Linked DNA regions of Homo sapiens. The protein of the gene in region 1 interacts with the protein of each later gene in a biochemical or structural test. Each region holds a gene or a part of one and is shown in the gene's direction. Other genes may lie near its edges.

Region 1 (7,682 bases):
GCAACACAGTGAGACCCTGTCACGACAAAAAATACAAAACTTAGCCAGGCGTGGTGCTGCATGCCTGTAGTCCCAGCTACTTGAGAGGCTAAAGTAGGAGGATCACGTGAGCCTGGCAGGTTGAGGCTGTAGTGAGCCATGATTGTGACACTGCACCCCGGCCTGGGTGACAGAGTGAGACCTTGTCTCTAACCAAATAATAACAAAATGGCCGTGTTCTTTTAGATGTCATCTGACCAACATCCCAACCAATTCAGACAACTGGCACTCTCACCTCCTTTGTCTCATTGACAATACTCTTACCGTTGCAACCTGAGCTGCAAAGATCCGTGGACACAGGGCCCGGGACCATCCCAGCCTCGGAGGCCTATTTATCCACTCACAGGCTGCCCCGTACCCACACAAACAACTTTCAGAACAGGATGCAGGACGCTTGTTCTTTTTTTTGTTTTCTGAGACAGTCTTGCTCTGTTGCCCAGGCTGCAGTGCAATGGCACAATCTCAGCTCACCACAACCTCTGCCTCCTGAGTTTAAGCGATTCTCCTCCCTCAGCCTCCCAAGTAGCTGGGATTACAGGTGCCCGACACCATGCCCAGCTAATTTTTGTATCTTTAGTAGAAACAGGGTTTTGCCACATTGGCCAGGCGGGTCTCGAACTCCTCACCTCAGGTGATCCATCCACCTTGGCCTCCCAAAGTGCTGGGATTACAGGCGTGAACCACTGCGCCCGGCTAAGGACACCTGTTCTTTACACCTATCTTTGGTAGCGTACGGCCAGCACGTTTCAGATGAGCTGCTGCAGAGGTAGCAATCACTCTCCTCTTAGCAGATCTGAGCATGAGAGGTCCAGGTCTCACTGCTCTCCCACACACAAATGCTGGGCAAGGCAAGGGCAGAGCCCTCAGGTGCTCTACCAGCAACCTGCACTCCCAAAATGACCACTTCCTGTCCTGTCCACAAGTCATCAGGAAAGTCTGGCAATGTTTGCCCAAAATAAATATTTCTATGTCCGTGAGGTCGCCCAATACCACCGACCAGTCACCCTCCCAAAATGGCACCAAGACCAGCGTGCCTAGGATTGTTCTCTGTGGAACAAACCCTTTCTTGATTTTTCTTGGCCTGAACTTGTAACAGGAGAGAGCGAGTGAGCATGCGTTTCTATCAGCCACTACAAACTCTTCCTTTTTTTTTTTTTTGAGACAGAGTCTTGCTCCGTCACCCAGACTGGAGTGCAGTGGGGCGATCTCGGCTCACTGCAACCTGTGCCTCCCGGGTTCAAGCGATTCTCCTGCCTCAGCCTCCCAAGTAGCTGGGATTACAGGCATGTGCCACCATGCCCGGCTCATCATCTTTTAGTACAGACGGGGTTTCGCCATGTTGGCCAGAGTGGTCTTGAACTCCTGACCTCGTGATCCACCCACCTCGGCCTCCCAAAGTCCTAGGATTACAGGCATAAGCCCCCGCACCCCCGCTCGGCATAGAAATCCTTTCTGGTGTTGCTAGAAAAGCCTAATCCCTTTGCTCCCCATTTCCACGCTTGATTGGTCCCTCAAGGTTGTATTCGGGGCATTTCCAGTAGCTTCCCCATCACTACGATGAAAGCTAAATTCCCCTAAAACAGTGCAAACTGGCTGGGCGCAGTGGCTCACGCCTGTAATCCCAGCACTTTGGGAGGCTGAGGCATATGGTTCACGAGGTCAGGAGTTCAAGACCAGCCTGGCCAACATGGCGAAACCCCGTCTCTACTAAAAATACAAAAAGCCGGGTGTGGTGGCGCGTGCCTGTAATCCCAGCTACTCAGGAGGCTGAGGCAGGAGAACTGCTTGAACCCAGGAGGCAGAGGCTGCAGTGAGCCAAGATTGTGCCAGCCTGGGCGACAGAGCAAGACTCCATCTCAAAAAAAAAAAAAAAAAAAAAGTGCAAACCAGATCATCGGCAGTCAGCTGTCAACCATGTTCCTAAAAAAAGCAAACTCAGGCTCTGAATAGTCTACGTGCCTCTCTCTAGTAGCTCAACTGGATAAACCTACCTCTTCAAATTTCTTGGTTTTTGCGACTTCACAAATCTGCCCTATCATCCGGATGCGATTGTTGAGGCCACATTCCATGCTCAGTTCCTGGAGAGAGATGAAAGAAGAAAAAGGGGCCAGTGCTCAGGCCACGGTCTCCTTAACTGCAAGTCACAAACCACCTAAAGACTCCCACTGCATTTTCCAGACTAGAGACTTAAAACAGATCTTTCTGGAATCAAGATTCACTTGACGAGCCGCGGTGGCTCAGGCCTGTAATCCCTGCACTTTGGGGGGCCAAGGCAGGTGGATCACCAGAGGTCAGGAGTTTGAGACCAGCCTGCCCAACATGATGAAACCCTGTCTCTACTAAAAATACAAAAAATTTGCTGGGCGTGGTGGTGGGCGTCTATAATCCCAGCTACTCGGGAGAGTGAGGCAGGAGAATCCCTTGAACCCAGGAGGCGGAGATTGCAGTGAGCCGAGATCGCGCCCCTGCGCTCCAGCCTGGGTGACAAGAGCGAAACTCGGTCTCAAAAAAAAAAAAAAAAAAAGATTTACTGAGGGGCTTTACTGCTCCATCCCGAGGAGTTGAGAATGTGCAATTTTTTTTCACAACTGCAAATGTTGTATTGAGATAAAACATAACATGAAATACAATTTCAAACTGCACAATTTTTTTTTAGACGGAGTTTTGCTCTTCTTCCCCAGGATGGAGTGCAGTGGCGCGATCACGGCTCACTGAAACCTCCGCCTCCCGGGTTCAAGCAATTCTCGTCTCAGCCCCCCGAGTAGCTGGAATTACAGGCGCCCACCACTATGACCGGCTAATTTTTGGTATTTTTAGTAGAGACGGGGTTTCGCCATGTTGGCCAGGCTGGTCTCAAACTCCTGACCTCAGGTGATCCACCCGCCTCGGCCTCCCAAAGTGCTGGGATGACAGGCGTGAGCCACCGCACCCAGCCAGGATGGACTATATTTTATTCATCAGTTGATGAACGTTTTAGTTGTTTCTAAGTAGAAAACTTTACAAGTGCAAAAATTCAGCATTTACTCATGGGCAAAACACAATGCCAGGCATGTGTGACAAAGACACAAACACACATAAAAGATAACGACCTAGCCCATGTGCGATGGCTCATGCCTGTAATCCCAGCACTTTGGGAGGCCAAAGCGGGCAGATCACCTGAGGTCAGCAGTTCAAGACCAGCCTGGCCAAGATAGTGAAACTCCATCTCTACTAAAAATACAAAAATTAAATGGGTGTGGTGGCACGTGTCTGTAGTCCCAGCTACTCAGGAGGCTGAGGCAGGAGAACCACTTGAAACTGGGAGGCAGAGGTAGCAGCGAGCAGAGATTGTGCCACTGCACTCCAGCCTAGGCAACAGAGCAAGACTCAGTCTCAAAAAAAAAATAAAATAAAGAACCTACTTCTCCCAGGAACTCACATCTTATCATGTAACACCTGGACATATCCTTACCTGTGAAGATGATGATACTCAGGCCTCATCTATAAGATGGGCTTTCTTTCATCAACATCTGAATAGTAACTCAAGTGTGCCTGAACCAGGTCACCAAGATCCTGACTTTCGAAGTCTCCTGAGGAAGGACATGTCGGCCTCCAAGTACTGGAGACAGCATTCCTGTGTAGACAGTTGCCAGCAACCCGTCTCCCACAGAACCTGGTGCAAGACCAAACCCAGCCTTCTCTGCATTTCCCTCTAGCCTAGCAAAGACACAGGTAGCTCACTCACTCTCAGTATTTCCGCGGTGATGATAAACTCCGTCTGTTTACCCTCTGCAGACCTGGGATTTGGCCTCGGTGTTCCCAGTCCCAACAGAATCTTAAACTTCTCCTTCAAGCCTGAATCTTTGCTTGTTGGTTTGGCCATGGTGGACCAGGACGCACCAGAAAACCCCTCTGTGCAAACGAAACAGGAATGGGGACATCTGAGCAACACCTCTGCCCACCTTCCCCACTGCGGACCTCCAGCCGTCAGGACCCTGGGTCTCTGGTGGGCATAACCTTTCCTCCCACACTCCCTGGGAGAACTCAACTACAGCCCAGCTGACCAGCTCGCAAACAGGCACCTAGGAAAGCCCGGGAGACACCAGGCCTGGTCTAGAGAGCTCTCTACTCAGACGCTGCCGCCCGCCCCGCCCGACTCAGTGCACGGGTTAGGACTGCCGCCGCGAAGTCCTGGGAGCCCCGACGTTTGCCGTCTCTCCTCTACCCATGTGAAGCAGGAGCTGTCACGGAGCCGCCTGCAGCAGAGACCCGTTCGCACCCGCCATGACTTAAAACTAAGGGATGCTCGGAGCTCCGGAGTCGGGTTGCAGTGGGCGCGGGTGAGGGCCCGGGACCCGGACACTGCGGGGTCCGCCTCTCTAGGCCGCTGCCCCGTGGGGACCGCCACTTGCCCCGTGGGGACCGCCACTTACCCCGCGCCGCGCCACCGCGCTCCGGGCCGCCCCGACGCGGAGAAAGGCGCACCCCCCTGGCCCCGGGACGCCGCCGGAAGCGCGACCCGCACTTCCGGTAGCGGCATTGCGCGGAGGGCCGCCTTGGGAGCTTGCTGGGAGTTGTAGTTCTGTGCCGCCCTCTGGCGGAAAGGCCGGCGATCCTTGCATCACGTGACGGGGCCGCATGGGCCGCCGGGATGTGTAGTCCGCAGGAGTCCGGCATGACCGCCTTGAGCGCGAGGATGCTGACCCGGAGCCGGAGCCTGGGACCCGGGGCTGGGCCGCGGGGGTGTAGGGAGGAGCCCGGGCCTCTCCGGAGAAGAGAGGCTGCAGCAGGTAGCGCCGCGCCGTGGCTGGAGCGTGGGAGGAGGCGGGATAGGGGCTGCAGGCTGGAGTCCCGGGCCGCCTCCTGCGGCTCCCAGCTGCGCGGGCAGGGGCTGCAAACCCGGCAGCCGCGAACGGTTCCCACGTGCGGCCCTGCGTTCCCACCTTGCGCCTTTTTCCCAAAGATTGCGGTCCGCAGGGGCTGGGTTTCGGGCGCTCCGCTCCGCTGCCCCCTTTCGCCCCAAGCAAGAAAACGCTTCCTTTCCCACCACTCTGTCCGGGACTCTCCACTCCAGGCTCTGTGGGTCCCATCCCCGCCCTCCTGCAGTGAACTTGCTGTCCTCGGAGAGGCTGGGTGCCAAGGACACACGCAGCCAGAAGCCTGCTCCCCCAGCTCGGGGGAGGGTGCCTCTGAGGGAAAACAGGAAAGGGCATGGCACTTATTATATTTATCCTGCAGCCGTTGAGGACCTGCTGGGGGCCAAGCACTGCAGTGAGCAGTGAGGGACACGGACAGGGCCTCTGCGCTAGTCCCGCTGGGACTTCTGCAGAATTGGCCAGAGCTGGATTCCCATAGGCACCCAGGGACCCCAGGGGTAGTCCAGACTATGTCAGGAGGAACTGGTGCAGCTGGGAGCAGGCAGGTGGTGATGCCAGCCAGGGTGGCAGGAGCTTTGATGCCAGGATAGAGTTTGGAGTTTATTATGACAGTAAACGGAAGTCAATTAGGAGGTTTTGTTGTTTGTTTTGAGATCGGGTCTTGCTCTGTCACCCAGGCTGTAGTGGAGTGTTGTGATCTCAGCTCACTGCAACCTCCGCCCCCCAGGTTCAAGCAGTTCTCCTGCCTCAGCCTCCCAAGTAGCTGAGACTATAGGCCCCTGCCACCACACCCGGCTAACTTTTGTATTTTTAGTAGAGATGGGGTTTTGCCATATTGGCCAGGCTGGTCTTGAACTCCTGACCTCAAGTGATCCACCCACCTCGGCCTCCCAAAGTGCTGGGATTACAGGCTTGATCCACCGCGCCCGGCCGGCCAGGATTTTTTAAAAGGGAGTGACACAACCTGATGTGGGTGTTAGCAGACTGTCTCTGGTGCAGTATAGAAGATGTATTGGGGGCACCTTGGTACAGGCTGTTGCTAGAGTCCTCATGAGCTAACATGGACCTTGTCAGGGTCGCTGGCATAAGGAGGGCCCACATACCCCAGACTGCAGAGGGCAGAGCACCCCAAGTGTATTAGATGATGGACAGTTGTGGCATGAACGAGTGAGGGGTGAGCTAGCAGGCGGGATGGCACCCCTACCCTACCTTCACCTGTGGCCCCACCAGAGGGACTGCGTGGTGCTTTTTGCAGAAGCGAGGAAAAGCCACAGCCCCGTGAAGCGTCCGCGGAAAGCACAGAGACTGCGTGTGGCCTATGAGGGCTCGGACAGTGAGAAAGGTGAGGGGGCTGAGCCCCTCAAGGTGCCAGTCTGGGAGCCCCAGGACTGGCAGCAACAGCTGGTCAACATCCGTGCCATGAGGAACAAAAAGGATGCACCTGTGGACCATCTGGGGACTGAGCACTGCTATGACTCCAGTGCCCCCCCAAAGGTAGGCAGGGGCCCCATCTGCCCAGATGACCCCCCATCTTAGCAAGGTCCTTGTTTTCTTTCTACCCGGTGGCTTTTGGCTGGCACCCTCCCCTGCAGACAGCACCTTGGGAGGATGGACACCCGGTGCCCCAGAGCATCGCCTGCATCACTGTAGCCACTCAGCAGGTCAGGACACCAGTGGTTTAGGGCCTCGTGCTCGAACTTCTGCCCAGTGCAGGCGTGACCTGGGCTTTGTGTGATATCAGGAAGGAAGAGTTCCTTTTGCTTCACGGTCCCAGGGCCTGAAACCCTTAGACCAAGCTGAGTTCTAATCCCTATTCTGCTACCAGGTGGCTTGGATACAGGCCTCTCTGAGCCTCAGTTTGCTTGTCTGTAAAATGGGTAGTATGGGCCAGGCATGGTGGTTCAGGCCTGTAATCCCAGCACTTCGGGAGGCCAAGGCGGGTGGATCACCTGAGGTCAGGAGTTCGAGACCAGCCTGGCCAATGTGGCGAAACCACGTCTCTACTAAAAATACAAAAATTAGCCAGGTGTGGTGGCAGGCACCTGTAACCCCAGCTACTTAGGAGGGCGAGGCAGGAAAATCGCTTGAACCCCGGAGGCGGAGGTTGCAGTGAGCCAAGATGGCACCACCACACTTCAGCCTGGGTGAAAGAGTGATACTGCATCTCAAAAAAAAAAATTTGTTTTAAAGGGTAGTGTGATGATTCACGAAGCAATCATAATAGTAGTGGCCAATGGCTGTTCAGTAGTGATGGGCCAGATACGATCGTGTTGGGTTTTTTTTTGAGACCAAGTCTTGCTCTTGTTGCCCAGGCTGGAGTGCAGTGGTGAAATCTTAGCTCACTGCAACCTTCGCCTCCGAGGTTCAAATTATTCTCCTGCCTCGGCCTCCCGAGTAGCTGGGATTACAGGCATGCACCACCGCACCCAGCTAATGTTTGTATTTTTAGTAGAGACGGGGTTTCACCACGTTGATCAGGCTGGTCTCAAACTCCTGACTTCAGGTGATCCGCCTGCCTTGGCCTCCCGAAGTGCTGGGATGACGGGTGCGAGCCACCACGCCCGGCCACATACGATTCTAAGCACTGAGATAATTCATTTAAGCTTCACATTACTCCAGTGAGTCAGGTACTATTATTGTCCTGGTGTTGTAGATGACCAAACATACCCAAACCAGACCTCCCCACCCCACAGGGGGAGGCTGATGCCTCAAGTGTGGCCCAGGGCAACAAACCAGGGTGTGTCGAGGGCGGGGGGCGGAGCCTGGCCAGGGAATCACCCAGGACCC
Region 2 (7,031 bases), on another chromosome or scaffold:
GCCAGGATTTAATTTCCATTCCAAAGGCCGTGGAACCAATGGAAATTGACTCGGAAGAAAGTGAATCTGATGGTACGTGTCTGTGCTTTTGTAGAAATCTGGAACGGTAGGATTTCCCCTCTGTAGGAATTCAGAGATCGGTTAGTGTAGTCCCGTTTTAACTTTTTACAGATAAGGAACGAGAGACGTAGAAAGAAAGATGAAATGACTTTCCCAGGGAGTCACAGCTGGTCATGGAATCTTGACCTTCCCTGTGTTGCTCTGCTTTTTGTTATCATTTTTAAAGGCATGAAGTGCCCTATTTGGGGAAGGTAAAGTTGAGTTTCCCTCTAGTTTTTAAAAACTTTTTATTTTGAAATAATTATGAACTTTAAAAAGTTGGAAGAATATTATAAAACACTGGTTCCTTCATCCAGTACCTCAGTGGCTAGCATGTTACCACATTAGCTTAGAATTTCTCTTGGTCTCTCTGTGGCCCTCTATATGTATATCATATATCTCCAAATCTGTATACATATGTATACCATTGATCCTCATTATTTGTAGATTCCATATTTGCAAAATTGCCTGATCACTAAAATTTATTTATAACTCCAAAATCAGTACTCACCGCAATGTCTTTGTGGTCATTTGTGGACATTTGCAGAGTTGGGGAAAAGCTTGAGTTGCCACACTGTCCCCTGCTGAGGTTAAGCAAGGTGACACTCTGCCTGGTTCCCGTGTTCTGAGAGAGATGACCAGAGGGTGGGGACAGTAGGGGATTATGCAATGGAGAGAGAGCAAGAAGCTCCGGCCCCAGGCCAGTTGGACCAGATTTGAATCCCTATTCTGGCACCTGTTAGCGTGGCAGCTTCACACAGGTCACTAATTTGTTTCTTGAACTTTGTTTCTTGTTTATAAAATAAATGGAATCTATTAAGATGGTGGTTTTTTAGGATTTAAGATAATATATATGAAATGTGTTCATATATATGTTATATATGCATATGTGTGTATATGCACATAGATATGTTTAGGAGCAATGACTCGGTATTGGCTAATTTAGTGTTCACAGAGACTTCATACGTGATGGCCACTTTGAATAAGAGAATCAACCACACACACACACACACACACACACACACACACACACACAATTTGTTCCTGGTATCTGCTAGTTTTCTTCATTCAAATGTTACTATTTCCCTTTTGTAATTAATAAGTATTTTGTGGAAAAGGAATTTTTGGAGCTATATAAATATGCTGTTCCTGAACAAACTTCCACCCACTTGTTAGCATCCATTGATGTTTACCTGAATAATTTGTTACTACGTTGGTTGCCAAATGATGGTTTTTCTAACTCCATCATTCCTTATATATTATTACTTGACATCCTCCTATGAGGAAGATCTTTTCCTTCTCCCCATTTATTTTTATTATTTTTAATCAGTGTAGACTCCTGTATTCCTATTTAGTGAGTTATAATCCAATACTGTCATAATTTACTTTGTTACTCAAATTATCACAGCTTTGGCCATTGGGGCTCCTTCTAATGGCTTTCAGCAGTTTTTTCATTATATTTTGAGCTTTTCCTTGCTTTCTGGCCAAGCTGTTTCAGGCATATGTTGTACTTTCTCTGCCCTGGTCCTGGAACCAGCCATTTCACCAGGGAGCTCTGGTTCCTTTCAGTGGAGCATGGGGTTTAGACACCACAAGCTGGATGTGAGTGTGCTTATGGATCCTGAGGTATAACTGTCTCAGGCCTTTTCAGCAACAGTGCCAGGAAGTATATTTATGTATACATATACATGCACACACACATCTATATTTATTTCTATGTCTATCTGTACTAAAATCCATGAGTTTATACTGACATCTGCAATTCCATGGGGTTCAGTCTAGCCTCCTGCTTCTTTATAGTTTCCCTAACAATGAGAAACATTGCTCCCCTTATCCTCAATACATTTACATCTGCTTATTCTCCCTGGATATGTAACCATCTCCCCCTCCCACTGGCCTCCTCCTTGGCCCTGCTCTCTTCTTTGCTTCAGCTGTGTCCTTGGTGCCAGCTCCCAGTCCCTGAGAGCCCCCTCCTCTGTTCTGATTGTCTCCTTAAACCCAGCTGGACAGGCCTTGCCAGCCCTCTCCACCTACAGGGAAGGAAGGCAACCATTAAATATATTTTAAGGAGAAGGAAAGACAGTAAGACAGTAAGAGAGGAGAGAAGGGAAGTGGAAGAGGAAGAACTATTTCTTAGTCACAGCTTTATTCTGTGCTGTGTAAATAGCATAAAAACATACTGAGCAACTTCCATGATTGTTTATATACTTTGATAATCCTCCTTTTTGAATTTTTAAAACAATGTCAGTTAACTTAGAACATATTTATATAAAGCGAATATACAAATCTTAAGAGAGTTTCCTACTTTCAAAGACAGTGCCAGTTTACCTAATTGAAAAGGCTTGTTTTGAAGTTACAGGCATTTGTGATTACATTTATTTATTAATAACGCTACTATTACATGTATTCTGTTATAGTCATATCTTTCCTTTTTAGGATGTAGCATTTTTCAGGTTCCTCCAGAAAGCTCTTGATGATTGCAGGATCATTTTAATGTTTTGATTGTAGATGAAGTGACCTTTTAATTTTGGTACAGGAAGTTTCATTGAAGTGCAAAGTGTGATTAGTGATGAGGAACTTCAAGCAGAATTCCCTGAAACTTCCAAACCTCCCTCAGAACAAGGCGAAGAGGAACTGGTAGGAACTAGGGAGGGAGAAGCCCCTGCTGAGTCCGAGAGCCTCCTGAGGGACAACTCTGAGAGGGACGACGTGGATGGTGAGCCACAGGAAGCTGAGAAAGATGCGGAAGATTCGCTCCATGAATGGCAAGATATTAATTTGGTAATACCGTAACATTGTGTTTCGACTTCTTGCTGAGGAAGCCAGGTTAAGTAGGTTTTGAGTTTTAAGGAGTTGGTGGATGAGTATTTAGTAGCTATTTGCAGTACATCTTGTGGTTGCTGATGGCTTCATTTTTGTGTAGGTTACTGGCTGGGATAGACTCCGTTTTCCATGTGGTTTAGTGATGAATCTCTAAAGATATTACAGAGTCTTGGTTAGACATCCAGTGGAGTACTTCCTAAGGAGAAAGAGCTTATTGGTAATTTCAGTCAGACTAAATGCAGGCTTTTTGTAAACAAAACTCATTTGGATTATTAATATAAATCTATAAATGAAAAAACATTTTATAGGAGGAGTTGGAAACTCTGGAGAGCAACCTCTTAGCACAGCAGAATTCACTGAAAGCTCAAAAACAGCAGCAAGAACGGATCGCTGCTACTGTCACCGGACAGATGTTCCTGGAAAGCCAGGTGGGTGCAGGCAGCTTGGGTTTCCTTTACCACCTTCTTCAGACCCCTGGGGGAATGCACTGCATGAAGGGGGTATGCACTGTGCCCCCTGGTGCTCAGGGCCTGGTGATGCCGTTCCCTGGGGGTCACTGTGTGTCCCTAACTCTGCAGGAATGAATGCATTACATGAAGTGGTAGGCACTGCTCCCCCTGTGCTCAGGGCCTGGCGGTGCCCTTCCCTGGGCGTCACTGTGTACCCCTCACTCTGCAGGAACTCCTGCGCCTGTTCGGCATTCCCTACATCCAGGCTCCCATGGAAGCAGAGGCGCAGTGCGCCATCCTGGACCTGACTGATCAGACTTCCGGAACCATCACTGATGACAGTGATATCTGGCTGTTTGGAGCGCGGCATGTCTATAGAAACTTTTTTAATAAAAACAAGTTTGTAGAATATTATCAATATGTGGACTTTCACAATCAATTGGGTAAGACTTCAGAGTCTTTTTGATTACTTTCTGACATTTACCTTCAGAGTTTGTCCTAGGAAGTTTTCTTTCCAAGGAACTAGTTTGATGCATTGATGGAAATTGCAGGTCTATGCAAATTTTTATATGAGTGATCTTTGGCTTATATAGAGGAATAGGATTTTAAACATTTGAATTAAGGAATTAAAGTCCTAGTATGTTTAGGTAGTTAATCAACTGACTTAGTTAAACTTTGACTAGTTACCCGAGATCTCCACAGTGAACAAAAGGTGGTGGAGAGGGGAAGCAGGCCGCGCCTGGGCCTGTATTCGGGTTTCTGGCACTGATCTTCTTCTGTTCATCCAGCAAATATATGTTTGGTGACTCCTATATGCCAGTTGTTCTTAACAAGAGGGAAGGAACAGAGAGTAAAATAGTAGGAGAAACAGATGATAAGCAGATACATAAATCATAATTTGACAGTTGGTGGTAAGTGCCAAATAGAAAAATATAACAGTAAAGGAGAGGAGAGAGTGAACTTCAGGCATCGAGAGTGCAGGTGCTGTTTCAGAGAGTTGTTGGGAAAGGCTTTACTCGTGTAACTTCAAGGCAGGGACCTGCAGGAAATAGGAAGCAAGCACTGTAGATAGATACCTCGGGACTAGTGAGTGAAAGGGGCTGAGGCAGAAGCTTGTGGGCTGTGTTCTAGGGAAGCAAGGAGGCCAGTGTGAGAGGAGGAGGGAGGAAATGGCAAGGGTTAATCTTAGAGAATAGGAAGAAGCTGAAACCCACCAGGGTCTGGTGTGCTAGGGTATGCAGGCAGATTGAATGTGGGGTGGGAGAAGAATGAAGTCGAGGAGGATTCCAGATACTGAGCAGCTGGTCGAGTGGACCTGCCTTCAGTAAGACAAGGAGGGAGCACAGTGGAGGAGGAGAAACGAAGTGTTCAGGTTTGGATATGATAAATTGGGGATGCTCATTGGATACCCAGTGGAGGTGTTGAGTTGATAGTTGAATATATGTGACTGTGGTTCAGAGAGACTCAGGCTAGATAGCTAACTTTGGGGGTCAGCGTATAGAGGGTATTTAAAGCTATGAGAATGGATGAAACTTTAAAAATATTAACAGAATGCCATTGAATAAAATAATTTATTTTCAAATAATAAGATATTTTTGGTGGTTGGATATAGATATAGATATACACACGTACATGATTTATATAATAAAATGTTTATAAATGTCATATAAGAAATCTTGATAAAAATTAAAAAATATTGTTACTCTTTAGGATTGGACCGGAATAAGTTAATAAATTTGGCTTATTTGCTTGGAAGTGATTATACCGAAGGAATACCAACTGTGGGTTGTGTAACCGCCATGGAAATTCTCAATGAATTCCCTGGGCATGGCCTGGAACCTCTCCTAAAATTCTCGTAAGGTCTTTTATTTCTTTAATTTGGATAATTGTGTAAATACCCAAATAAGCAAATAGAACTATTATTTACAGCATGAACTGTCATGCTGTAACATGTGAACAATGGTTCACTGAGAAAGCAGCAGAAAGTATTGGTTGTTTTCCATTTTCTAGAGATGATGAAATCAGAGTCAGTTCTTAGTGGTGCTGGGCTTATCCTAGTTCAAGGGTACAAAGCCAGTCCTGTGGATTTCACAGGAATGTAGAAGTTGCCTTTTCATCCATTGACATACTTATAGAGCAGCTATGATGTGTCAGACACTGTGCTGGCCCTGGGGAAAGGAGAGATGAGTAAGGCATAGGCCATACCCTCAAGGACTCCCCCCATATACTTGGAGGTGATGGAGAAGCAAAGCAAATTGTACTTGTCTGTGTGTTTGGTGTCCTGAGAGAGGTCAGCCAGGAAGCGACTTGGAAATATAATGCCAGGAATGTTACATCCAGCACTCCTGTCCTGTTTCTCACCATGTGAATCCCGTGACGTGTTCAGTGGTGAAGTCTTGCTCCATCCAGAACCCAGAGTCGTGCTATACTCGGGGTACATTTATCATTTTGAAGATTCTGAGATGGTAGGAGTTATGAGTATGTCTGGGAAAGTAGTTTTTTCTTTGTCCTTGATGGCATCTTTTTAAAAAATTGAAATATAGTCACATACCACAGAGTTCACCGATTTAAAGTGTACAGTTCATTGGTTTTTAGTGTATTCACAAGATTGTGGTGGCATCTTTTAACCGTCACTATGTCGTGAGATGCTGTTTGGTGGTGGCTGATTTAATGATCCTTGAGTGTTCTCTCCAGTTACATATCCTGTGTTTGAAAGATGCTAGGATGCTCTGACCTGAAGAGTCAGTGACTGGAATCACTGAAATGAACGGCGAAACTGTTGTAGTGATCATGGTCTTCCAGTCATAGCACACTCACCAATGTGTTGTATTTTATACTTTCTTCATTTATCTTTTTCTGATTTTCTTATTGTTGAGGAAATTTATATACCGGGAATGAGTTATGAGGTAGACATACGTCATGGTAGGTAAATAACTTGAAAACCTACAAATAACTTTATTATACAAATAAAGTAAATACATCATAGAAAATTATAAATATGTATTAAAAAGATGATTACAGTTTACAATTTGTTTATGTAATTTTAGACTTCACACATATATATGCATATACATTGCATATATATGTATACTCATTTGAGTGTGTGTATGATTTTTTTTATAAGAATGGGATGATGCTATATACTTTTTATTTTACCTGTAACCCATTTGGTATTAGAACAAGACCTATTATCAACGATGATATAGATTTATATCGTTTTTAATGGCTACAGGTAGTATCTTTTTGCGTCTATCAGGGCTAGTTTAATCAAGTGTCTTTTGTTATTTCTATTTTTAGAAAGGTATTAACAGACATTGATTTGAGTGTCCTTAATCTTCGGGTTCTTATCTAATGATTATTTTAGAATAAGTGAAATAGTATCTGACTTTTCCATTTGGTTTCTTGATAACTATTGAGAGTGAATTTTTTATGTTCATAGACGGTTTGTGTTTCTGATTTAGTGAATGACCTGTTTATGCTGTTCCACTTTTCTTTGTTCAGCAGTTTTTGCTCGTTTGTTGCCTGCTGAATCATTTTCATATTTGAGCAGTTTCTGCCTTTGGTCCTCCAGCTCGTTGATGCCAGATAGGAGCAGCCTTCGCTCTGCCTGGCTCAGGACATTTAGGATGAATACAGAGTAAAGAGCAGGAAGGATGGTGG

What was found. Proteins that work in one complex are often made in the same cells at the same time.
Region 2: the proteins of NTHL1 (region 1) and ERCC5 form a complex in vitro, tested with the Homo sapiens proteins (2 studies listed by BioGRID).

The regions. Positions count from the first base shown.
Region 1 is NC_000016.10:2,044,835-2,052,516, reverse strand, and holds the start of NTHL1 (endonuclease III-like protein 1), read left to right. Parts: upstream 1-4,682; 5' UTR 4,683-4,693; coding exon 4,694-4,808; intron 4,809-6,125; exon of another isoform or gene 6,126-6,150; coding exon 6,151-6,389; intron 6,390-7,682. Other genes in the region: TSC2 (tuberin), read right to left, coding at 2,031-2,117, 3,764-3,901. UniProt on the Homo sapiens protein: Bifunctional DNA N-glycosylase with associated apurinic/apyrimidinic (AP) lyase function that catalyzes the first step in base excision repair (BER), the primary repair pathway for the repair of oxidative DNA damage.
Region 2 is NC_000013.11:102,863,032-102,870,062, forward strand, and holds part of ERCC5 (DNA excision repair protein ERCC-5), read left to right. Parts: coding exon 1-72; intron 73-2,635; coding exon 2,636-2,880; intron 2,881-3,230; coding exon 3,231-3,350; intron 3,351-3,600; coding exon 3,601-3,814; intron 3,815-5,081; coding exon 5,082-5,226; intron 5,227-7,031. Other genes in the region: BIVM-ERCC5 protein, read left to right, coding at 1-72, 2,636-2,880, 3,231-3,350, 3,601-3,814, 5,082-5,226. UniProt on the Homo sapiens protein: Single-stranded structure-specific DNA endonuclease involved in DNA excision repair. Makes the 3'incision in DNA nucleotide excision repair (NER).